Linked DNA regions of Homo sapiens. The protein of the gene in region 7 purifies or fractionates together with the protein of the main gene of each other region. This does not show direct contact. Each region holds a gene or a part of one and is shown on either strand. Other genes may lie near its edges. The genes, in order: DENND6A, SBF1, ATP7A, ADCY6, DIP2A, UGCG and CX3CL1.

Region 1 (3,500 bases), on a different chromosome or scaffold from region 7:
ACAGTTGCAAATTAATCTGATTTACTATTGGATTAATTTTTTCTTAAACAAGGACAGGGTCTCCCTCTGTCTCCCAGGCTGGAGTACGGTGGCACAATCGTAGTTCATGCAGCCTCCAATTCCTGGGCTGAAGTGATTCTCCCACCTCAGCCTCCTAAGTAGCTAGGACTACGGTGCATGCCACCATGCCTGGCTAATTTTTAATATTTTTTGTAGGGATGGGATTTCACTCTGTTACCCAGGCTGGTCTCGAACTCCTGGCATCAAGTGATCCTCCTTCCTGGATTCCCAAAGTGCTAGGATTACAGGCATGAGCTTGGGATTAATTCTTTTTTTTTTTTTGAGATGGAGTCTCGCTCTGTCACCTAGGCTGCAGTGCAGTGGTGCAATCTCGGCTCACTGCAAGCTTCACCTCCCGGGTTCACGCCATTCTCCTGCCTCAGCCTCCCGAGTAGCTGGGACTACAGGCGCCTGCCCCCATGCCTGGCTAATTTTTTGTATTTTTAGTAGAGATGGGATTTCACCGTGTTAGCCAGGATGGTCTCGATATCCTGACCTTGTGATCCGCCCGCCTTGTCCTACCAAAGTGCTGGGATTACAGGCATGAGCTGTCATGCCTGGCCGGGATTAATTCTTTATCCATGTTATCTGCATTATTTTTGATTTTCTGCTATATTAGGGAATATTGGTAAGACCCATTCCCTCTCTGGCTGTTCCTAAAGGAAGAGAATCTTAAAAGTTAGACAGGGCAGCATGGCTTATTGATCATGAGATAGATATATTTTAAAATTTTCCATAAATTTTGGTGATACCTTCTTTTATTTTTCTTTTCTATCTCTCAGGTGGACACAAATATATCTGTTATTTTACCTACTGTTCATGAGGTGGATATTTTCAGGTAAAGAATAAAAAATTTTATTAACTGACTTCCTTTTGCTTTGTGGTGGTGGTGTTAATTTATTTAAAAAATGAATATTATATAGGATGTGGAAAAAATTGGAAGAAAATAGTTATGTTTTACATGTTATAAATCAATGGTTCATCCCTGGGTACATGTTATAAGCTTTGACAATTAGGGAAATTTAAATATAGAATATGTATTATATGTAAAAATATTTTTGTTTGGTTTAGTGTGAGAATTATATTGTAATAATGTTAGAAAACATGCTTTTTTAAAAAAGAGATGCATTTTATTTGGGAGTGAAATGTCATGATGTTTGTGTTCTATTTTAAAATACTTCAGTAAGAAAAAATAGATGACGTGAAAAATGGCAAATATTAATCATTAAATCTGAGTGATATGTATATGATGTTTCTCACACTGTTGTTTTTACTTTTCTGTATGTTTGAAAAATGTCAACATGGAAAATGAAAAAACAAAAAAGAGATACTGTTAGCACTTAGAAAAGAAATAGAGGAAAAATAAAAAGTAATGTTTGTGCCTTTACCCAGAGCAGCTAAATCTTTGGATTGGTACCCAAGTTCTAGTTCCCCAGGTAGTTCTGATGTATAGGCCAGCTTGAAAAACCACTGCTATAAATGAGCAGTTACGAAATGCTCAAAAAGTCATGAAAGACTTAAAATGGATTTTTTTGGTGGGATCTTTTTTCTTTTATTTTTGAGACAGAGTCTCACTCTATTGCCTAGGCTGGAGTGCACTGCTGCAGTCTTGGCTCACAGCAGCCTCCACCTCCCAGGTTCAAGCGATTCTCCTGCCTCAGCCACCCAAGTAGCTGGGACTACAGGTGCACACCACCATGTCTGGCTACATTTTTGTATTTTTAGTAGAGATGGGGTTTCACCATGTTGTCCAGGCTGGTCTCGAACTCCTGACCTCAAGTGATCCACCTGCCTTGCCCTCCCAGAGTGCTGGGATTACAGGTGTGAGCCACTGCGCCTGGCTGACCTTTTTGTTTGTTTTTTATGACTTGTAAACTACATGGAATACTGCTTCAAAAGATTGGTTAGTTTAAAAAAAAAAAAGATTGGTTAGTTTTATATGTTGCTCTAGCACAGTACAGTCATCCTATTTCTAGGTATTTATTCAATAAAAATGAAAATGTGTCTACATGAAGACCTGTATGCAAATGTCTATATAGTAGCTTTATTCATAACAGTATAAAACTATACACAACCGAAGTATCCATCAACTGGTAAATGGACAAACAAAATGTAATACATGAATGCACATGGAATACTATTCAGCAGTTAAAAAAAAGAAGGAACAGTTGATACATGCAACAATGTGAAAGACTTCCAAAAGCATTATGCTAAGTGAAAGTTTCCAGATAATTTAAAGATACTGAATGATTCCATTTATATGATGTTCTGGAAAAGATAAAACTATAGGGACAGAAATCAGATCAGTGGTTACCTGGGGCTGGGGGAGGAAATCTACTACATAAGGGCTGCGGGCATTTCGTGAGGTGATGGAACTATTCTAGATCTTTGGTAAGGGTAAATTTTACTGCATATAAATTATAAATGTGACTTTTAAAACAAATTAATTTTCTTAAAAAGTACATGTTATGGCATTATTAGGATGAAAAGAGGGAGTGTCCCCAAAATGAATAAATATTACAGGCAAAATATACTAAGAAGAATGTGTACATTTCTCGTTTTGATACTTGACTCATTAAGGAATAATTTGCAGAATTGGCATAAATTAATATAGAGTTCAATTATTGGACATTTTTTCTTTTGAACTTCTGGGTATGAGTCTTACGCTTTATTGTTTGTTACTGATTATCTTAGCTTTTGTGGTAATCTTGCATATCCCATATCTGAAATGGTCAGAATCAGAAGTGTTTTGGATTTTGGACTTTTTTGCATTTGGGGATTTTTGCATATACATAATGAGATATCTTGGGGATGGGCCCAAGTTTAAACACAAGGGTCACTTATGCTTCATATACACCTTATACACATAGCCTGAACGTAATTTAAAAAAATATTTTTAATGATTTTGTGCATGCAACTAAATTTTGATTGCATTTTGACTTTGACTTACCTTGAGGTCATAAGTAGAATTTTCCACTTGTGGCATCATGTCAATGCTCAAAACCTTTTGGATTTGGGAACATTTTGTAATGTAGATTTTCACATTAGGGATGCTCAACCCTTAGTTAATTACCCCCATCACTAACACCTTTGATTAGCACATGTCTTGTCTCCTGGATATGAATTACATAATATTGTTTTAAGAGTGGGGCAAGTAAGTTTGTTGTTTTTAAATTCTTGTTTCCCGCCAGATGCAGTGGCTCACGCCTGTAATCCCAGCACTTTGGGAGGCCGAGGCGGGCGGATCATGAGGTCAGGATTTTGAGACCAGCCTGACCAACATGGTGAAACCCCGTCTCTACTAAAAATACAAAAACTAGCTGGGCATGGTGGCGGGCCGCCTGTAATCTCAGCTACTCAGGAGGCTGAGGCAGGAGAATTGCTTGAACCCAGGAGACGGAGGTTGCAGTGAGCTGAGATCGTGCCACTGCACTCCAGCC
Region 2 (3,500 bases), on a different chromosome or scaffold from region 7:
ACGCCTGTAATCCCAGCACTTTGGGAGGCCGAGGCGGGCGGATCACCAGGTCAGGAGATCGAGATCATCCTGGCTAACACGGTAAAACCCTGTCTCTACTAAAAATACAATACAAAAAAATCAGCCGGGCGCGGTGGCGGGCACCTGTAGTCCCAGCTACTCGGGAGGCTGAGGCAGGAGAATGGCGTGAACCTGGGAGGTGGAGCTTGCAGTGAGCCGAGATCGCACCACCGCACTCCAGCGTGGGTGACAGAGAAAGACTCCGACTCAAAAAAAAAAAAAAAAAAAGGTCAGGGCTGGGACTAGAAGCCACGACTACAGCTGAGTGAAGCTTGAGCCCCTGAGCATTGCTGGGCACTGAGGGGGACACGGGGAGGCAGCAGCCACTGGCACTGGGGATGGTCGGAGACGCAAAAGGGACTCTGTGGGAAGCACAGGCATGGGGGGTGCAGGGGCGGCCCCACCTGCAAATGCCACTCAGGGTTTCTGGCAGGGGTGGGAAGGCAGCAAGACAGGGCGATTGTAAAATGTAAGTATATAATGTGGTATCTGGAAAAACAAAACCACTTCTGAACTAGAGAACAGGTGGTCCGGACACAGGAGTGAGTGTGGGGCCTATCTGCCACCCCGTCCTGGGGCCAGTCTAGCTCAGTGTGTGCAGGGCGCCTGTGAAGTGTGCGTGGCGGTGGGGACAGAGACAGCAAGGCCAGCTCGGGCAAGGCCCAAGGAACCAGGACACACGAGGACAGAGGCCAAGCTGCAGGCAGAGCCAGGCCAGAGGCTCCAAAGACAGTCTGGATTGGGGGATGCAGGGAGGGTGGAGTGTGGGGGATGAGGAAAAACAGTGACACTGGGAGGGAACAGGACAGAGGAGCATCTGGGATGTTTCCAGGCTGTGGGAAATGGTAAGACAGAGCCGCGTAGAGGCAGCACCCGGAGGACCCTACAGGAAGCTGCAGCAGACGCAGAGGTGGAGAGCGGGCAGGACGTCAGGGCGGGCAGGAGGTCAGGGCACACACCTGGTCTGGGCACACACTTGGTCTGGACAGGCTTCCCGCCCCTGCCCCACGGCACCCGGAGGGCATGCTCCTCATCCCACACCCAAACATCCATGACCAGCGCCGTTTCTGCTCCTCCCTGGCCTGCCTGCCAAACCATAAATGCCACCACGGCCCCCCAAAGTGCCCCTGCCCCACCGTCTGCCCACAAGCACCCTCACCGTGACTGCCCATGTGGGCTGAGGAGAAGCCGCTAAGCGTGTTGCGTCCCGACGCGTCGGCGTAGCGGGGCATGGAGCTGACCACAGCCTGCAGGTACTTCTCCTGCTCCAGGCTACTCGAGTCCGCCTGGGACTGGCCTGGGGGAGGACACGGAGCTGAGGGAGGGGAGGGTGAGATAGGGCAGGGCAGGCACAGGGCAGGACGCAGGAGGTACCTGGAGAAGGTGCGTTCTGGGCCTTGAAGAGGCCGACGACACCTTTGCCATGCAGGCCTCCAGAGCGCAGCAGCACCGCCTTGGACCGCCCGCTGCGCCAGCAGACCACGGGGAAGCGGTTCTGGCGGTAGCAGCGGGACACGCGCTGCAGGGCGTTGTCCTGGACACTCTGGGGCACGATCAGCAGCCCTGGGTAGCTGAGAGGAGGCAGAGGCGTGAAGGTGGCTGGCGACCCCACCCGCCTCCAGGCTCACGCCCCAAGCAGGGCAAGAGGAGCCAGCCCATGGCTCCCAGCAGGAGGCGCTTCCAGCTCAGCCACGGGGCCCCCCAGCCACCCCCCAGCCCTGTGGCCCGTCCCTCTGCCCGGAGTCTCCCCCTCCACATTCCTTACATGACCAGAAGCCGTGGCCCAGGCCCACAGCGGGCAGGGAAGACACCCAGTCACGTGTCCACCACCCGGGCCAGCCCTGGCCGGCCCTCACCTGCGGCAGATGGCATACATGCGGTTGACCGGAGAAATGCGGAAGGGCTCAGACTTGGCCCGGCTCAGGCTGCTGCTCAGGGTGCCCAGACCGAGGCGCTGGTAGTCGCGACAGCAAGCCCTTTCCACCAGGCTGCTCATGGTCATGCGGTCGGAGGGCTTCAGGGCTGAGGACGGGGTCAGCGTGCTGGGCTCCAGCTCCTCCGACACTGCACAGGCCGGGCACACGTGGTCATCACGGGGCCACTCCGCCTGCCCTGATCCTCCCTGGCCAATGTCAGCATCCAGAGACCACCCAGGACTCCACCCCCACCCCTCCACCTGAGATCTCGTCCTCCTGGTCCTCAGGGGGCGGCTGGCCCCGGTGCTCCCAGCTGGGGGGGTTGTACTTCTTGCGAGTGACATGCTGCCGCCCGATGGTCTTCTTGGCGTTCTTGACCAGGTTCCGGGACAGGGTTCTGAGGCCCACGAGAGTCAGCAAAGGTGAGAGGAGGAGGGACAAAGATGAGCACAGGGGCCTAGGAGGGTTGGAGCGGGAACACGGCTGAGGCCCAGCTGCCCTGCCTGGGACCCAGATCCATACCTGAGGGAAGGACCCTTGTCCTTGGTGACTCGCGGTGGCCGGCCAGGTGTGTGGGCAGAGCCCAAGGTGAACGCAAAGGTGGCCCTGATGTCCGGCGGGTACCGCAGCTTATGCAGCTGCTTACGGAAGAGCTCGGCGCTGTCAGACCCCACCTCCTCGTCAAAGGCCATTTTCAGCAGCTGTGTCAGTAAAAGCAGCCCTTAGGGGTGTGGGTGGCCCCCCAGCCCCTCCCCCAACTCTGACACTGCCAGGCTCCCCTTCCCCTCGCAGCCATGACAGAGAGAGAAGCAGGCCCCAGGCAAAGGCCTGTATCTGTGTCACACGAAGGCAAGCGCTTGTGTAAACTCGAAATCTCAGTGGCTGTGAGCTGAGGCCTGGGTTTGCAAGGCACACCCAAGACACGGACTTGAGGGCCGGCGCCCCAAGGAAAGGACAAGGACCCAAAGACCGCACATCAAACAGTGGACATCAACTCAAGAGCCACAGTGAGGGCCCCAGACATGCAAGCGTAACAACAGGGCCACTGCTGGAGACTGGCCTAAAAATGGTTCATACAAGAAAGACCGGTTTGCAGGAGAAAGACCAGGGCGGGGGATGAGAGCCCCACCCGCGCACCGCGCCCCACCTGGAATGTGCAGGAGCGCAGCTGGAGCCCGTCCTGCAGGAGCTGGTCCACAGGGGTCTGGACGCTGATGCGCTTCTCCTTGGTCAGCGCAGCCACCGGGAAGGAGCGGACCACCACCTGCTCCCCAACTTAGGACAGGCCAGGCAGAGTCAGAAGCAAGGAAGGTAAGGGGGGGGGGGTCCCAGAATCTCAGGGTACCACAGTTATGGGGAATCCCAAGTGGGTGGGGAAGGAGCAGACAAAGGCCCGTTTCCCACGGGCACCCAGAACCCCCGAGAAAAGGGAGAGGGAGGCAGGGAAAGCCCATCCATCCCAAAGACCTGGGGGAGAGGGGGCGACAGGGCCAGAGAGTCTGCAGGCTCACCCAGGGGGTCCGT
Region 3 (3,500 bases), on a different chromosome or scaffold from region 7:
ATAGTCCATGCTCTTATCATTTATTTCTATGACTTTGTTTAGAACTGGTCCCCTCACCTAGAATGTTTTCTTGCACATATTTAAGTTCTATTACTTCACTAGTCTGTAAACTCCACAGAAACAGGACCATATCTGCTCTGTTCACTATCATACCACCAGTGAACATGGTGGCTACTCAATAAATCACTGTTGAGTAAGTAAATGAACTGAAGTCCCACCTCCTTCATGAAAAATCATGTCAAATACTCCTAGCCACTTTCTTTTTAAATTCCGAATACCCTGGAATCAGTTTCATAGTTTAGTAGTACCTAATTTCTCTCTGCTTGGTATTAAACTTCTTTCTCTTGCTAGACATTGGAACATATGCCTTATGCTTCTTTGTATAGCTCACAGGAAACACTGAATATGCAATAAGCACACAATAAAAATGTACTAATCAAAGTGCTGACATGCTTTGTAAAAATTCAATTTACACACAACTTTGTAAGAATGCAGCTATTTGCAGAGTAGGTTAGACATACATAAGGCCTTTTCCCTTGCTTACACTGTATCACAACTTATTCAGTACAAGTATGGTTCAGCATTTGACAATTAGGGAATGTGGAAAATCTCGATGGCCTAGAGTCTGTGGCTCACTAATTACAGAAGCAGATTGTTATGAGTTTTCTTGATAGGGAAATAGGATGAGCACATCACAGTGATTTGATTTGCCAGCTGTAATAATGAGCTTTAAGATGCCATGTTAGCATATGTAGGTGTACTATAGGCTACTGGGGGACCCTCTCAATCTGAGTTTTCCATTTTCTTTCTCTTTTTTTTTCTTTTTTTTTTTTTTTTTGAGACAGGGTCTCACTCTGTCACCCAGGCTGGACTGCAGTGGCATGATCTCAGCTCATTGCAGCCTCAACCTCCCAGGCTCAAGCAATTCCCCCACTTTAGCCTCCCCAGTAGCTGGGACTATAGGCGCATGCCACCACACCTGGCTATTTTTTGTAATTTTTGTAGAGATGGGGTTTCACCTTGTTGCCCAGGCTGGTCTGGAACTCCTGAATTCAAGCAATCTACCCACCTCAGCCTCCCAAAGTGCTGAGATTACAGGCGTGAGCCACCGCACCGGCCAATTTTCTATGGTGTAAGTTAGAAATTAAGTATTGTGCCGGGCGTGGTGGCAGGGCCGGGAGCGGTAGCTCAAACCTGTAATCCCAGCACTTTGGGAGGCTGAAGCGGACAGATCACCTGAGGCCAGGAGTTTGAGACCAGGCTGGCCAACATGGCGAAACCCCATCTCTACTAAAAATAAATAAATTAGCCGGGTGTGGTGGCACACGCCTGTAACCCCATCTACTCGGGGGGCTGAGGCATGAGAATCGCTTGAACCCTGGAGGCAGAGGTTGCAGTGAGCCGAGATCGTGCCATTGCAACTCCAGCCTGGGCTACGGAGCAAGACCCTGTCTCCAAAAAAAATTTTTTTAAAGAATTTAAATATTGCTTGCAAGTATTGATTGATTAGTATATTGATCCTGTAGTCTACTAAATTTATAGTACAGCAAAACTGTAATTTATAATTTTATTATATAGGATGTTAAAATTACTTTTACAGTAAATAATATATTAAAATATTAAAGGTAACTACATTTTATTGTATGTTTACTATCTGCCAGACACCGTACATGTATTAGATCATTAACAATCCTGTGAGACAGGTACTGTTATTGTCCCCATTTTAGAAATTTGAAGGAACTGAGGCACAGAGGAGTATGAAATCTGCGCAGGGTCATACAAGTAGTAAGCAGAGGGGCTGGGATCCCACCTAGACAGTCTAGCACCTGGACTGAGCCAGACAAGACAGGCTTTTTTTTTTTTTCCGGACAAGACAGGGTCTCACTCTGTCACTCTCTCATCCAGGGTGGAGTGCAGTGGTGTGATCTCAGCTCACTGCAGCCTCAACCTTCCAGGCTCAAGCGATCCTTCCACCTCAGCCTCCTGAGTAGCTGGGACTACAGGCACGTGCCAACACACTCAGCTAATTTTTGTATTTTTTGTAGAGACAGGGTTTCCCTATGTTGCCCAGGCTGGTCTCGAACGCCTGGGCTCAAGCAATCCGCCTGCCACGGCCTCCCAAAGTGCTGGGATTACAGGCGTGAGCAACTGTGCCCCACCTAGCCTCCACTCTTAATCCTATATTATACTGTCTCTCCAAAACAATATATCGCAATACAATGGTGAAGTTAAGATACCTTGAAGCATCAAGAGAATAATATCTAATACTCCAGAAAATGTTCAAAGATATTACTGTCAAGATGAAAAAACAAACATAGACCATTTCACTCCAGCCTAGGTGACAGAGCCAGACTCCATCTCAAAAATAAATAAACAAAAATAAACATTAGGTGTTTTAGTATATCTAAATATACATTTAGTATATCTTTTCTTTCTAGGAGAATCTGAGAATACAATTAAGACACCATTTTTAACACTAGGTGTTTTAAGGCCTGGCACAGTGGCTCATGCCTGTAATCCCAGCACTTTGGGAGGCTGAGGAGGGTGGATCACTTGAGGTCAGTCAGGAGTTCGATACCAGCCTGACCAACATGGCAAAACCCCTTCTCTACCAAAAATACAAAAACTAACCAAGTGTGGTGGCGCGCACCTGTAATCCCCGCTACTTGGGAGACTGAAGCAAGAGAATCACTAGAACCCAGGAGGCGGAGGTTGCAGTGAGCCGAGATAGCACCACTGCACAGCACGATGCTGTCTCTACAAAAAGTTTAAAAATTAGCTGGGAGTGGTGGCACACACCTATAGTCCCAGCTACTCAGGAGGCTGAGGTAGGAGGATCGCTTGAGCCTGGGAGATCGAGACTGCAGTGAGTTATGATGGCGCCACTGCACTCCAGCCTGGGTGACAGAGCAAGACCCCATCTCTTAAAAATAATATTATTTAAAAAATAATAATTAATTAATAAATAAGTAGCTAGGCATGGTGGCATGCGCCTGTGGTTCCAGCTACTTGAGAGGCCAGAGGATCATTTGAGCCCAGGAGATTAAGGCTGCAGTGAGCTATGATTGTGCCATGGCACCCTAGCCTGGGCCACAGAGCGAGGCCCTGCCTCTAGAAATAAATACATAGATAAATAATAACAATAACATCTTTTAAAATAAAAATAAAATAAAATAAGGTTAATGGCCAGTCTAAAACAATATCCCTACAATGTGAAATAACCCATTTATTTCAACTGGTAAATTGTTAAAAATGCACTCCTGATTATAGGTCTGAAAAACTGGACTTCTACACTAGAGATTAATAGTAAAAATAAGTAAAACTCTTTTTTCATCCTTGAGACATAGCTGTATAATTTTAAATGTGAACAGAAAATATGGTACAAAGTACACATAACTGACTCAAAATGGGGTATTTTACCCTCATTTCCTTCAAGGAAAGAGGTATCTGTGAAAACTGATGTAGTCTACCAATATCTCATACATTTGGGCACAAAAAGA
Region 4 (3,500 bases), on a different chromosome or scaffold from region 7:
CAGGCTGGTCTTGAACTCCTGACCTCAAGTGATCCGCCCACCTCGGCTTCCCAAAGTGCTTACGGGCATGGATTACAGGCATGATCCACCGCACCTGGCCCCTAACACATTTCTTAAAACTCTGTGAAATAGGTAACAATATCCCATTTTAAAGGTAAGGGAATGAGGCACAGAGAGGCCAAGTAACTTCCCCAAGATCACACAGCTGTTAGTGGCTAGTGTGAGACTTGAACCCAGGACAATCAGATTCCAAATCCTGTGTCCTAATCCTACTATCTATCTACTGCATTCCATACTTTGTAGTGCATTCCAGGTTTCCAAGATTCCTACTCACTCTACTGAGTCAAGCTCTCAAGCCCAACCTCAGAGCCCTGGCTTGAGAGTCATCAGTTCTACTGATACAAAGGATGTCCCCTAATTGGAGATGGGGTCCACCATGCCTGGCCACCCCTCAAGGTGTAACTCCCTCTGACACTCAGCCCTGCCAGGCCCTAGGCCTAGGGCCCCACCCTAGGAATGTTCAGCCCCCAATCATCATCAGCGGCACTGGCTAGAGAGCAAGTCTAAGGGAAGCTGGCCTCAGTGTTTCTGGAAACTCAGGAATTAACCTGGAGCTTGCGGCTCCACCCCAGAGTTGGATGGGGCAGGGCTCTGGTTTAAGGAGAAGGGAGAGAAACAGCAGAAGCACTTCCTGGAAGCCAGAGGTTCTGGGCTCTAACTTGAACTAGAACTAGTCCTGCAAAATTGGGCAGGTCACTTAAACTTTGGGACCTCAGTTTCCTCTTGGGTAAAACTGAGGGGGAGGCCTGGCTCACCCCTAGCCATTTCCAGCTCCAGCCTCTGGGATGGGCCTCCTAGCTTCCCTTCCCAGTCCAGCTCACAGGCCCAGGATCAACTAGGCTGAGCTCCCCCTCCCAGCAGCAGGGGTGAAGAGAGGGGCACACTATCTCCCTTGGGGGTTTCTAAGAATAGCCCCCAGTGGGGGAGAAGGGAAGGGGGGCAAACCAGGCAACTTCCCTTCCTGGCCCCAGGAGCCCAAGAGGAAAATGTGAGTCACGGTGGAGGGAAGGGGAAGGGGGACGAGACTGAAATAACTCTGTACACACACATCCCTATCTGACTATGAGAAAAAATGGATGCCAGGGGACCGGAGGAGACTCCAAGCTGGGCCTGGGTCACTGGGTGACACTGTTCAGTATGTCTAAATGAGTGGGTCGGTAGGGGACAAAGTCTCCTTCCTGTGATTGTGAGTAGGGGTGGATCTGGGAAGGGGCTGCCCAAGTAGACGAGGAAGGAGGCCACAAACCCCACCTGTCTAGAAACCCACATACCCAAATGGGCACAGGGAATGTTTCTCAGCCCAGAGGAAGTTGTATGGGCAGCTCTGGCCCCAAGGACTGGCACAGGGGCAGCAGTGAATTTCGCCACTGCCCCAAGAATGTGCCTATCGAGATCCACTACATGAAGCTGTAGCCAGACACTCCTGGGGAGACGGGCACAGTCCTGGCCTCCCTGGGACTGCACCTCCCCAGTCAGGCACTGGGCCTGGCTCTGGGCACCATGCCAGTCGAGAGCAGGGAACAGATGCCCACCCAGCCCATGCCTGGCCAGAGAGGAAGGGGGAAAGGAGACACCACCTCTAAGCTCCTTCCCCAGGAGGGCAGTCCAGCCATAAAGCCCTGGTTGAGAGCCACCCTGGAAGAGAAGCTTTGGGGCAGAAGGACCTGGCCCTTTAAGATGTCTGACAGTGCCCTAAGGGCACGTGCTCCACAAACAAACGGGCTATAAAGTTACTTTTAAAAAGGTACGTTCTGGCATTCTGGCATTCTGGCCAGGTGCGGTGGCTCACGCTTGTAATCCCAGCACTTTGGGAGGCCAAGGCGGGTGGATCATGAGGTCAAGAGATCGAGACCATCCTGGCCAACATGGTGAAACTTGTCTCTACTAAAAATACAAAAATTAGCTGGGCATGGTGGCGCGCTCCTGTAGTCCCAGCTACTCAGGAGGCCGAGGCAGGAGAATCGCTTGAACCTGGGAGGCAGAGGTTGCAGTGAGCTGAGATCGCGCCACTGCACCACTCCAGCCTAACGACAGAGCAAGACTCCGTCTCAAAAAAAAAAAAAAACCACAAAAAAAACAGGTAAGTTCTGTTCTGCAGCACAGGCTGGGTGGAGAAGGGCATCATGCCAGAGAACCTAGCTTCTCACCCTGGGATCCCCAGGCAACTTCCTCTCTGTGCCTGAGGCAGGGTGGGCAACAGGCCACAAGCCTTCAAAACCTTGAGCAAGACAGCACTCTCTAGTTAGGGTCCAGTGGAGGACCCAGGCGCTGTGCTGATGGCGGGGCTGTGCCTACAGCAGCGCCTGAAGGACCCTGGCCTCTGCTCCCTGGGCAGGGGGGTAACAGGAGATGGCAGATCCACAAACTAACATCTCTCTGAAAGGGACTTCCCAGAAACCCCTTCACTGGGTACCATGCCTTCCAGCACTCCCCAAACCTCCCTGCCCCCAGGTGTGAACACTGCCCAGTCGGGTTCTACTCCACTCTAGGAAAGGGTGGGGCCCCAACAGCAACATGAGCTAGATGCTATTTTTATTCCAGCTTTGCAGACTGGGAAACTAAGGCTGGGAGAGGTGAGGCTAGTTGTCTAAGATCCCACAGAAAAGAATACAGCCCACTGGATAAGCAGGTCAGCCTACAGCCACTCCACACGGAGCCGTGGAGTCCCACCTCACACACACTTGGAGCCTGGAGGCAGCAACAGGCATGGACAGAGAACCTCAAGGAAAGGCGCCCAGGTCCCTGGTGCCCAGCATGGGGAAGGTGGGATACGATCAGACTTAACGCTCCTCTCTTCAACAGTCCAACCCCATTCAAACCACATCCAGCCCAGAGAGAACTGACCCCAGCTCTTCACCTTCCCTGTCCTCCCAGAAGTGGCCTTGGTCCAGGAAAGAGGGGACTCCTCTCTTGCTGACAACATCCAAAACCTGCTCTATACCTCCAGATCACCACCTAGAGCTGCTCTTCAGGGATAGCACCAGCGCCTCAGTCTCTGGTGTCAACTTGCCTGCTGAGATGCTAAGGCCTGGACACAGCCTGCACTGCCTTTTCAGCCCCACGGTGGCCCTGGGGCTATATACCACACCCCTGCCTCCAGCCCCACATTCTGTCTCTACAGACTGCACTATTTCAGCGGGCTAAAGAGCCGGAGACTGGGGCCCATGGTGACAGAGTTCAGGCTTGGGTCCTGGGGCCCTCCCTCCCCTCAGCAGTGTCCTCTACCCCAGATCCCACATGGAGGCAGACCCCTCAACCCTAGCCTCCCACCTCCTGCTCCTCCTCCCAGATACAGCCAGACATCCCTGCACCCAGCTTCCACCCATGACTCACCCGCCCTTCCTCACTAAGCCCCCACCTGCTTATGAGGTGAGAAATTCCCCACCTGCTGCCCTCCATCCCTACCTCCCTGGCCACCTACCTGCTTCCAGAGGAAGGCA
Region 5 (3,500 bases), on a different chromosome or scaffold from region 7:
AGTAGTTTTGTTCAATTCTAGTATTACAATGTAAGAAAACTACTGAGTCCATTTTTACAGTTTTTAAAATTGTCACAGTGTACCCCATAAATATATACAATTAGTACTTATCAATTAAATAATATTAATTTAAAGATATCTCAAGTTAAGTATCTGACATTTGAAGTAAATCAGGTGCTGACTATACTTTATCAACAGATCATCTATAACCATAAAGATTCTACTTATATATTTATATCCATGACAGCTGAGGTCAAAACTACAGTCATAGATAAAGTAATAGAAAACTAAAAGTGTTTTCCTCTTTTTGAATGAAAAATGCCCTGACCCTCAGTATGTCACAGAGTAAGCCAGCCCCCCAGGGCAGGCCTGTGAACCCAGCACTGTGTATAAATCAATCAGTGGGATATAGGTTCCATGTTCCATAAAATCAACATCCATGTGCATTTACTGAAAACAACCCTGATGGGGTTGTCTGGACTCTGCTAAGAGACACCGTGTGCCCTCTTGGCCAGCACAACCACAGAGACCCTGTAAGCATGCTAAAGACAGTGCATCTCCCTACCTGGCATGACCCGGATTAATGGGCAAAGGCACTACCCAGGGGTGGTTTTGACAGGTGCAGTGACAGTCACATGATTAGGTACGTCAGGTATCTGTGTGAGGCTGGAGGGGCCACCGCCCCACCCCCGAGAGCCCTTACCTTCTGAGTACCCGCACGCCTGGGTCAGAGCCCGGCACTGTGCCAGCAGGGATGCGTGGGACACTGTGACCCCCACCGTACTGCCTTCTTTGCTGGTTTTATACTGAAAGATTTCAAGGAAAAAAACATGATGTGGTATTTCTAGAGGTGACAACAGACAGAATGGAAACTGGTAGAATCTTCAAAAGAAGAAGTGGTCAGTGTCTCTCCTCTAACCATCGGCCTCTAACCAGCAGCCCAGGTACATGGCAAAACCCTGGCCGCTGAGGGGATGCTTCAGTGGAAGTTGTGGCTCCTCTTGGGCAGGTGCCCGAGGGTAATGGTGCGCCATGGGCTCCCTCATAACTGTCTGCATCCCCAGGGAGCCAGTTAGGAGAGAATTAGATGAGAGAGAAACCTGGAAGGATCTGAGCAAGGATTTATATGACACTCTGTATTTCCAGGGCAGAGATAAAACAAGAACTCTTAGGCCGAAACTTAACAAAAAAGAATAGCAACTTACATTCTTATGAAAAGCAAGACTTAAGCCTGTGGGACATGTTTTTACATTCTCTAAGTTAGGAACAGTCATTACCTCAATGTAGGCAGTCCCAGTCCCTGTGTCCTGGGCCAGAGGGTGCCAGTCCTTTGGGGGCTTGGCTAGATGCTTCCCATCAATCACTAGCCAGGAGAGCGGGGGCCAACCTGTGACACACAGACAGGACACAGAACAGCAAGCAGTCAGAGGCATCTGCTCCCCACACTCGAAGCCTGCGCCTCCAACATGCAGCACTAGCTACTGAGCGAATAAGGAGTGCAAGTTTTAGTCTCATTTCATTTTATATAATTTAAAAAGGTACATCCGGCCAGTGGCTACCACATTAGACAGTACAGGTCGAGACATGAAGCCAGATGAAAACCGAGATTCACCAAGGACTCGAACAAGGGATCACTTTTGCTGAAGACCCAGACACCTCTGTCATGTTTAATTTCTGGAACACCATGCATTTAACACAGACCACAGTCAGAACACTGACTCCCCTTCCCTTGGGAGGCCTCACCTTTGAAAGCTGCCACCTCTCCTGTCTGTGCCTTGGGGAGGCCTTTCTGACAAGCGTCTGTGGTCAGGGCCAAGAAGACTCCACAGCTGCCCAGCAGAAACCCAACCTGCTGGCTGCCTGCATCCTGCAGAAAGCAGAGTGACCGTGTGGGGTGGGGTGCTCACAGCAGCCACAGCCCCAGACCCTTGGTGCTCCAGGCCATGCACAGAGAACAGATCTTTTTTTCATCCCTCATAAAACTTCCAGAATAATTCAGTCCCATTATTGATATATATGATCTTTTCACGGAAATAGTTCATGAAAATGTGACAACTATGTTTAAATTTAAAAGATAATTTTGGTTTGTATTTGTGTTGAAATATAAAGTTTAATGGGCTAATTTCTCAAAGTTTATTCTTACAAATGACATTTAGAAGCATTTTTAATAAACTCCAAAGTTAATGGCATTGAAATTTCTATTGAATCATGTTTGAAATTTACAAATTAATCTAGAGAGGCCTGGTCACCAACGATATTAAATTATTTCCACACAGAAACACATTTCCTTGTAGCCAAGTCTTCTGTGTCCCTCAGCAGTATTCTGTCATTTTCTTCATATAAATTTGACAAATCTCTAGTTTTACTCCTAAGAACCACTGCATTCAAATACCTGCCCATCACATATTATGCTTTGAGATACACTAGTTTGATTTGCAAATTTTACTTTTGGGATTCTTGAATATTTCTGGATAATGCTCCTGTTAACAACTGCCTGAATTCTGGGACAGGATGACAGAAAACTGATTTTCTCAAATTCATGCCTTGTCTATTTTTTTTCAGTAATCATATTATTGATAGTTATATCAAAAATGTTACAGATACCTAGATCAGCAAGACCCCACATTAATAATTTATCAGCAACAGAAACTGCCTACGGTCATATAAGTGAACAGAAATGCAAGATAATTTCCATCTCGTTTATTCAAAACTGCCACTGAGAAGTGAGCTATATCACTGTAATGATATATTTATCCCTAAGAAATAATAATTATTTTCTATAAACATATGGTTTTGAGGAAAAGTTGAACAAAATCTTATTGAATCATAATTCTATTCATTAGAGGAAAAAATGGCTATCATTTCTGTTGGGAAATTCATGTAGATGATAGAACAGCTCCACCTAATAAGAGTGTGGTGTGGGAGCATCACCAGCAAAACGGTTCTCAGTGCCCCTCTCATTAACAAGAAGAGAGGCAGGCAAAACGGCATCTGATTTCTCTTGAGTCCTGGCCAGCCTGTTGACTACTAGCTTTCTCTCCTCTGTCAAAACAGCTGCTTGCTGCCTGCCCACATGAGTGAAAAGGAAGTAAGATACTGCTGGTATCAAGTTCAGAAGCGAACCACACGGGACCTGAGCCATGGGTTTGCTACCTTTCTTGTTAATGGCACTTCTATGGGGACAGGAACCAGCTCTGCCAGGAGACACCCATAAAATGCAACCATGAACATCACAGGGTCACTATTCGGAAACACGAGCGCCACCTACAACAGGACAAAGAAATGAATATTCCAAATTTCCAATTTTTACAATATCTAGTTAAATTAAAAGCTAGTTATAAATAAAATTTTTGTAAGCCCCAAATATTGTAATAATTGTGCTTGAAACCATAAGGGACAAGTCCAAATAGTATTTAACTGAGTAGAGACAGTTGACTCAGGGCCTTTGAGAACACGCAACAATGAATAACCAATAAGTGCTGACTTTGTAAGACAAAATT
Region 6 (3,500 bases), on a different chromosome or scaffold from region 7:
AGTAAATAAAATGCTGTGAAATCAAATATTTCCCTTAGATTGCAGGTACTTTGCACTTCTCCTCTGCTTTCCAAACTTTCTATTTATACAGCTAAATATAAGTTTATAATTAGAAAATAAAATTCTGTACTAACAAAGAATAAAATAATCTGCAGATGCTATTCTTCATCTTACAATGAATGTCAAAATAGCTTTCTCCTCAACCCACTTAAATGATATAACTAAATGGAAAAAGAGCTACTACTCTAAGTGAAAACAAGAGCTCTTGAGATCATTCTAAACTGTAATTTCCAAAACAATTTTTTATTTCAATTTTTTAATTTTTATTTTTTTGAAGGTGGGGGTCTCACTGTGTTGCCCAGGCTGGTCTTGAACACCTGGCCTCAAGCAATCCTCCCGCCTCAGCCTCCCAAAGTGCTAGGATTACAAGCACAAGCCACCACGCCTGGCCAAAATCTTCATTCACAAGAAATCAGTTATGGGGTCATTAGAAATGCTCGTAATCAATGGATACATATAACCCTGGGGTTACTTTTTAAAATTCTTTCAGTAGGGCATGGTGGCTCATGTCTGTAATCCCAGCACTTTGGGAGGCTGAGGTGGGGGGATTGCTTGAGCCCAAGAGTTCAAGACCAGCCCCGGCAACATGGCAACACCCTCTACAAAAAATACAAAAATCAGCCAGGTGTGGTAGCACATGCCCATAGTCCCAGCTACCAGGGAGGGTGAGGTGGGAGGACTGGTTGAGCCTGGGAGGCTGAGGCTGCAGTGAGCCACGACTGTGCCACTATGCTCCAGCCTAGGTGACAAAGCAAGATACTGTCTTAAAAACAAAAACGAACACAAAAAACCATTCTTTCTACAACTAAACCCCTCACTGACTTCCTCAAGCATTTAAACCCCATGACTATCATCTCACAAGCACTACAACGTAAAAATTCCATGACCAATTTTAAGAGTGGTTGAATGGGGAAAGTGAAAGAGGATGGTTAAAAAACTGAAATGTGAGATTAAGTTTCACAATGATAATGCATATGACTCTAAGCTATGCTCTAAGATTCATTCATAATCAATAGAAAATTTCTTTCATTCGTAAACATTAATTCTCCTTTGCATTTACTTTTATGGAGCTTGAAAATCTCCCATTTTTCTTACTGCAAAGCTTATTTTACAATTAATTTTATTTATATCTTTCTCAATTACAAAAGGCTAAGTTTTACCATTTTTTAGTTTGAAAAAACAAGTATATACAATTATATCTTATTTAAAAATTATATATTTGATTGAAGTTAACACATGTATTTAATTCAAATATCTAAAATTATTAAGCATATAAACACACACAAACTAGAACATATAATTTTTTTGCTTCAAAACAGCTTCCAATACTCCAAAATTGGCTTCTAAACTCCAAAACTCCAAAGCAATAATATAAAAACACTAAAAATACAACTGAATGATACTCATGTCTACCTACTTAATAAGTGCTGCATTAAGGCTATCACATCTGTGTCTTCTCTATTCTTTTCATTGGTGCTACCGAGAAAAATAAAGGCTAAAAGAAAAGAAATAAGAGCATGAAAACCAGTCACCATAAGAAGTGTAGTGCGCATATCATCTTCCTTCTGATTATTTGAGCTACCCTGTCCAAAAAAATTAAGAGGGACGACTCTCCCAGTAGCAAAAACAGCTATGGAAAAACTGAGGCAATAGGGTAAAAATTGAGGCAAGTGAATAGAGACCGCAAAGGGAAAACTAAACTGTACTGAAAGTCAAGTGGGTAGAAGCTTAAAGACACATTCTTCTCACAAGTGATCTGTTACCACCAAAATGCCCTTTCAAAAGCAGTCTCAAGCAATTTAATACAAAGCTGCTGTAAAGCTAAGTACAAAAATCAAAGAATATTAAGTTATCCTAAGAAACTACAGGTGGACTACTAAAGCAAAGTGATAAAAAGAATACTTTCATCTCAAGAAAACTGGAAGGTCTCCAATTAAGGGAGTACACTGAGTTTACAGATATACAGATTATATAGATAAATGGTATAAGCAATACAATTAGCTATTAAAATCAGAACAGTAAGGAAATTAAAAATGAGGTAAGATGAAACCCTACAGTACCACTAACTGTAATCTATTCTTGGCTCAAAGCCAGTTTCTCCGGAGAAGTCACGTTTAGTTCTGGCTGTACTGCAACCCATTTCAGACCACTAACACTGCTTTCTCCCTCTCCTTGTCTCCTCTTCCTATTGTTCATATCCAGCTCTTATGGAAGAAAATTTTTATTTTCAAACTACCAGGCACTTGACAATGTCTGAGTTTCAGAAGGTTTACTCAGGGATCTCTACTTCACACGGACATATAGGTGGTTAGAAAGGGAATTTACACCCCTTCCTCAACCTATTTCTGTTCTGTGATGACTACTACTAAAGGTTATATTTTATGAGGCCAATATCATCATGAATTTTTAATACCTTCACCTTATACAGTGTTAAAATCCCTAAATGTTTATCATGAGGGGAACAAAACAAAACAAAACAAAACAAAAAACCGTAACACTGAACTTACTTTGGGATAATCCAATTCAAAGAATGTTTCCAGGTTGTTGATTAAGTTAGGATCTACCCCTTTCAGTGGTTTCAGAAGAGAGACACCTGGGAGCTTGCTATAAGGCTGTTTGTCAGTTGCCTTCTTGTTGAGGTGTAATCGGCTAAAAAGCAAATGATATAAAAATTATTTCTATAGAATACATTAGTGTCAAATCAAAGCACTGACAAGCTATCAATAAATCCCTAAATTCTAAGTTAAGATTTTTAAAACTTGACATCTTTCTAAAAGAGGATCTAAACATGAAGGGAAGTAGAACCAGGTAAGCATGGCTTTGAATGCGGTCCAACACAAATTCATAAACTTTCTTAAAACATTATGAGATTTTTTGCGATTTTTTAAAGCTCATCAGCTATTGTTAGTGTATTTTATATGTGACCCAAGACAATTCTTCTTCTTCCAATACGACCAAGGGAAGCCAAAAGATTGAATACCCATGATGTACTACTCTCTGACTATTGCTATACTCACAGAACTATGCCAGGCATAGCGCAGGCATTTCAATAAAATACATGGTGAAGAAATGAATGGCAGTGTTAGCCCAAAGATTAACTCCTCTTCCTCTTAAATTGCCACTGAAGTGGCCACAGAACTATAAAAACAGGTAAAATAAAACACCGTCTGCAGCAGAAAATTATGAAAGGATAACCAGAACTTTCTGAGAAATTTCTTTGCAGTGGGATAATACACAGTTAAAAGAAGTGTCAAGCAGTCTGCATGGCAAGCAAGATAATGGGACAACTGGAACTCCCAATATTAATAAGGTCAGAATGGCAGGGGTAGAACAGAAGGAAACTGAAAGTAAGAAAAAAACTCAATGATGAGAAAAATGTCTATTAATGACACTGGAAGATATACCAGTGCCACCAGTTCATAGATAAGTGACCAAATGGC
Region 7 (3,500 bases):
ACAGGGACCTGCTAAGGTCACACAGCCAGCAAGTGATGGAGCAGGTTCTCCTGCTCTAGTCCCCACCGGGCCTGTGGCCTTGCCTATCCCCTCACCTCTGCCTTATTTCTTCCCGCTGCCATTTTTTTTTAAGAGATAGGGTCTTGTTCTGTTGCCCAGGCTGGAGTGCAGTGGTATAATCCTAGCTCACGGCAACCTCAAAATCCTGGGCTCAAGAAATCCTCCTGGCCGGGTGCGGTGGCTCACACCTGTAATCCCAGCACTTTGGGAGGCCGAGACAGATAGATCATCTGAGGTCAGGAGTTTGAGACCAGCCTGATCAATATGGTGAAACCTTGTCTCTACTACAAATACACAAATTAGCCTGGCATGATGGTGTGCACCTTTAGTCCCAGCTACTCGGGAAGCTGAGACAGGAGAATTGCTTGAATCCGGGAGGCAGAGGTTGCAGTGAGCTGAGATCATACCACTGCACTAAAGCCTGGGTGACAGAACAAGACTCCGTCTCAAAAAAAAAAGAAAAAAAAAAAAGAGATCTCTTGCCTCAGCCTCCCAAGTAGCTGGGACTACAGGTGCCTGCTACCATGCCTGGCTAATTTTTTTAAGAGACAGGGTCTTGCTATGTTGCCCAGGCTGGTCTTGAACCCCGACCGCAAGTGATTCTCCCACTTCAACCTCCGGAATAGCTGGGATTACAGATGTAAGCCACTATGCCCAGCAATAAACTTTTTAAAAAATATATAAGTACAACTGCTTTCTAAGGAAGGTGGGGTCTGCTGAATAGATGATCCTTTGTTCTGCTGCTGAGAGCCAGAATGAGCCCGAGAGCAGTTGCTGAAAGGTACTGAGTCATCCTGCCTAGGAGGGAAGAGGCATTTGAAATTCCTGGAGCAAGAAGAGTAAGGAGGAGGGTTGGAGATGGACGGTATGAATAAGGTGGGGGCAGAGTGGGGCGGAAGGGGCAGGCAGTAGCTGAGTGTCACGTGGAACCAGAGAGAAACCCCGGGACAGGACAAATAAACCCAACTATTTGATATAAACATTTGAAGTTGTTTACATTGAATTTCCACCTTTTCTCTTCCTCTATAATCTCCAGCAAATTTTCTTCTGCTTAGCTTGAGCTCAAGGAGGATGAGTATAAAAAACAAGGAAGAGCTTGAGTTTCAGATCTGAGTCAAGGTTATATGCAGCAAAAGCAAGACCCCAGAGGGTTTTGCAAACATCTGGAGACCAGGGCAGTCAAGAGAGCAAGCTGATCTTATCTAGCCCTTCAGAGCCTGGGAAACCCCCAGGGCATCCCTGGGCTCCACCAGAACACGAACTGCTCATGCATAAATATTTACATATATGTGGCCATGCAAACATACACCACTTTCCCAAATACAGGCACATGCACGCTTGCACACACAGAGAGACTTTGTAGAGTCTGCTGCTTCCTCTCTCCATCGCTCCCCCTTAGCTTTGGCCCACCCTGCTTTGTGGGAAGGTGGTTTAGGGCCGGCAGGTCTGGGTTGAGTCATCAAGGAGAAGCACTAGTAGCTTCAGGGGGTTGGGGGCTGTGTGCAGGAGGGGCTCCCCAGGTCACAGGGCTGTCCTTTCTCTCTGAGTAACCAGGATATAAAAGTCACTGTGTGGGCTGGCCACCCTCCTTCTGCAATGGAACCTCAGACTGACTCACCTGCAGCCTCCCCAGGCCCTATTGAGTGGAGCCAGGTGGCAGTCCCCTAAAATGGCCTGCAGGTGTCTTCTTTGGGAAGCCCCAGAAAATACGGTGCCCCTGAGTGACCAGAGACAGGAGGAGGCAAGGGAGGCTGCCCAATGGATAGGAAAGAAGGTCCATTCTGTGCTCCCCAAATCCAAGATGGGAAAAGCCATTGCCCACCTCCAGGGCTTTAAAGAGCCACAGAGTCATCCTGTCTCCAAAGTCCCCACCCTCTGCCACGGTCCCTGAATGGTCCTGGCCCGGCTCAGTTCTTGGTTCTGCCAGGAAGATTGTTTAACTGACCTGGGGAGCCTGTCCCTTCTCAGAGCTGAAATTTTCCTTTCTGTAAATGGAGACAATGCCTCATCCAGCCAGTCATATATTATCTGTCATAGGAGTGTCAGGAAGGCAGGGACCTTGTCTGTCTTGGTATCATAGTTTCCCAGCATCAAGCACAAGGTGGATACTCAATCAATATTCATTGAATGAAATTAGTCTCAGTTTACTTATCTCTCTTTAATGCATCTATCTACCTATCCATCCACCCGTCCACCCACTCTTATCAATCTTCTACCCATTCCTCGCCCACCTGCCACCTCCTGCCCAACCCCTATTCATCTCCATTCATCCATCTACCCACTCCCTCTCCCCTACCTACCACCTGTCAATCTTCCGCCCCCTTTTATCTCACCTACTCATCCATCCCTCATCATCCCCTCCCCATCCCTTCTTCCATCCATCCATCTGTCCATCCATCCACCCATCCATCCATCCATCCATTCATCCATCTATCCACCCATCCATCCATCCATCCATCCATCCATCCATCCATCCATCCATCCATCCACTTCCTGATTCAGCCAACACTGGCTGGAATTACTTTTGAGTATATACAAAAATCTCAGGCCCTCTTATCCTTAACCTTGAGCTCTTTCTCCCATAGGCACTGGTGCTGAGTTTGAAGAGAGTGCTTCCATCCCAATAAATGCCATCAGATCACTCTGTTTATTCAGTCAACCAACAAATGCTGGTTCCTCTTGCCAGGCCCTGTGCTGGGTGCTGTGAGGTACAGTGAGATGAACAAGGAATGCCTCTGGCCTCAGAAGGCTCCCAGCCTGATGGACAGGTAAATTAGGCACACAAAGTATCAGAGGTTTTATTTATTTTTTTTAATTGAACACCTACTGTGTATTGGACCCTGTGTCCAGCATGTACACATCTGCTCTCTTTAATTCCCAACATTCCTGCAAAGGGAGTATTATCCCAACTTTACAGATGCAGAAGCTGGAAATAAGAGAGGCTAAATGTGCCCAGTGCCACACAGCTGCATGGTGGCAGAGCTAGTTTTCTACTCAGCCCCTAAACACCCCACTGTTCTAGGCTACCCTAGATGCCAGGTAGAAACACAGTGTTCCAGAACATACCACAAACATATTGGGGTTTACATGAGGGAGAGACCACTTCCAACTTCAAATGGTCAGGGGAGGCTTCTTGGAGGAATTCTCCTTTAGGCTGGACCTCAAGGACTTCTAAGAGTCTTCCAGGGTCTTAGAAGGAGACTCAGGAAATGTCCTGGGTTGCTGGATGAGGTGATAAAGGGAGGGCTTGAGCCATTGCCCAGCTGTGTGTCCTGAGCAAGTCACTCGGACTCCCTGAGCCTCAGTTTCCTTACTTGTAAAATGGATGTGACAATACCTGCTTCACAGTGTGGTTGTGAGAATAAGAATTTTTTAACTTCTGGAGCATTTTTCCCTTAGGGCAAGGTTTCTCAACAGTGACACTACTGACATTTTGGACC

The links.
Region 1: the proteins of CX3CL1 (region 7) and DENND6A purify together in Homo sapiens (affinity purification with mass spectrometry; one large-scale study listed by BioGRID and IntAct). This does not show direct contact.
Region 2: the proteins of CX3CL1 (region 7) and SBF1 purify together in Homo sapiens (affinity purification with mass spectrometry; one large-scale study listed by BioGRID and IntAct). This does not show direct contact.
Region 3: the proteins of CX3CL1 (region 7) and ATP7A purify together in Homo sapiens (affinity purification with mass spectrometry; one large-scale study listed by BioGRID and IntAct). This does not show direct contact.
Region 4: the proteins of CX3CL1 (region 7) and ADCY6 purify together in Homo sapiens (affinity purification with mass spectrometry; one large-scale study listed by BioGRID and IntAct). This does not show direct contact.
Region 5: the proteins of CX3CL1 (region 7) and DIP2A purify together in Homo sapiens (affinity purification with mass spectrometry; one large-scale study listed by BioGRID and IntAct). This does not show direct contact.
Region 6: the proteins of CX3CL1 (region 7) and UGCG purify together in Homo sapiens (affinity purification with mass spectrometry; one large-scale study listed by BioGRID and IntAct). This does not show direct contact.

The regions. Positions count from the first base shown.
Region 1 is NC_000003.12:57,655,078-57,658,577, reverse strand, and holds part of DENND6A (protein DENND6A), read left to right. Parts: intron 1-842; coding exon 843-898; intron 899-2,082; exon of another isoform or gene 2,083-3,500.
Region 2 is NC_000022.11:50,458,036-50,461,535, forward strand, and holds part of SBF1 (myotubularin-related protein 5), read right to left. Parts: coding exon 3,488-3,500; intron 3,252-3,487; coding exon 3,124-3,251; intron 2,678-3,123; coding exon 2,499-2,677; intron 2,374-2,498; coding exon 2,237-2,373; intron 2,125-2,236; coding exon 1,917-2,124; intron 1,632-1,916; coding exon 1,435-1,631; intron 1,358-1,434; coding exon 1,220-1,357; intron 1-1,219. UniProt on the Homo sapiens protein: Acts as an adapter for the phosphatase MTMR2 to regulate MTMR2 catalytic activity and subcellular location. Promotes the exchange of GDP to GTP, converting inactive GDP-bound Rab proteins into their active GTP-bound form.
Region 3 is NC_000023.11:77,913,693-77,917,192, reverse strand, and holds part of ATP7A (copper-transporting ATPase 1), read right to left. Parts: intron 1-3,500. UniProt on the Homo sapiens protein: ATP-driven copper (Cu(+)) ion pump that plays an important role in intracellular copper ion homeostasis.
Region 4 is NC_000012.12:48,779,090-48,782,589, forward strand, and holds part of ADCY6 (adenylate cyclase type 6), read right to left. Parts: coding exon 3,482-3,500; intron 1-3,481. UniProt on the Homo sapiens protein: Catalyzes the formation of the signaling molecule cAMP downstream of G protein-coupled receptors. Functions in signaling cascades downstream of beta-adrenergic receptors in the heart and in vascular smooth muscle cells.
Region 5 is NC_000021.9:46,531,891-46,535,390, reverse strand, and holds part of DIP2A (disco-interacting protein 2 homolog A), read right to left. Parts: intron 3,265-3,500; coding exon 3,154-3,264; intron 1,868-3,153; coding exon 1,744-1,867; intron 1,388-1,743; coding exon 1,278-1,387; intron 807-1,277; coding exon 704-806; intron 1-703. UniProt on the Homo sapiens protein: Catalyzes the de novo synthesis of acetyl-CoA in vitro. Promotes acetylation of CTTN, possibly by providing the acetyl donor, ensuring correct dendritic spine morphology and synaptic transmission.
Region 6 is NC_000009.12:111,913,814-111,917,313, reverse strand, and holds part of UGCG (ceramide glucosyltransferase), read right to left. Parts: intron 2,710-3,500; coding exon 2,568-2,709; intron 1,556-2,567; exon of another isoform or gene 1,478-1,555; intron 1-1,477. UniProt on the Homo sapiens protein: Participates in the initial step of the glucosylceramide-based glycosphingolipid/GSL synthetic pathway at the cytosolic surface of the Golgi.
Region 7 is NC_000016.10:57,375,490-57,378,989, reverse strand, and holds part of CX3CL1 (fractalkine isoform 1 precursor), read right to left. Parts: intron 1-3,500. UniProt on the Homo sapiens protein: Chemokine that acts as a ligand for both CX3CR1 and integrins ITGAV:ITGB3 and ITGA4:ITGB1. The CX3CR1-CX3CL1 signaling exerts distinct functions in different tissue compartments, such as immune response, inflammation, cell adhesion and chemotaxis.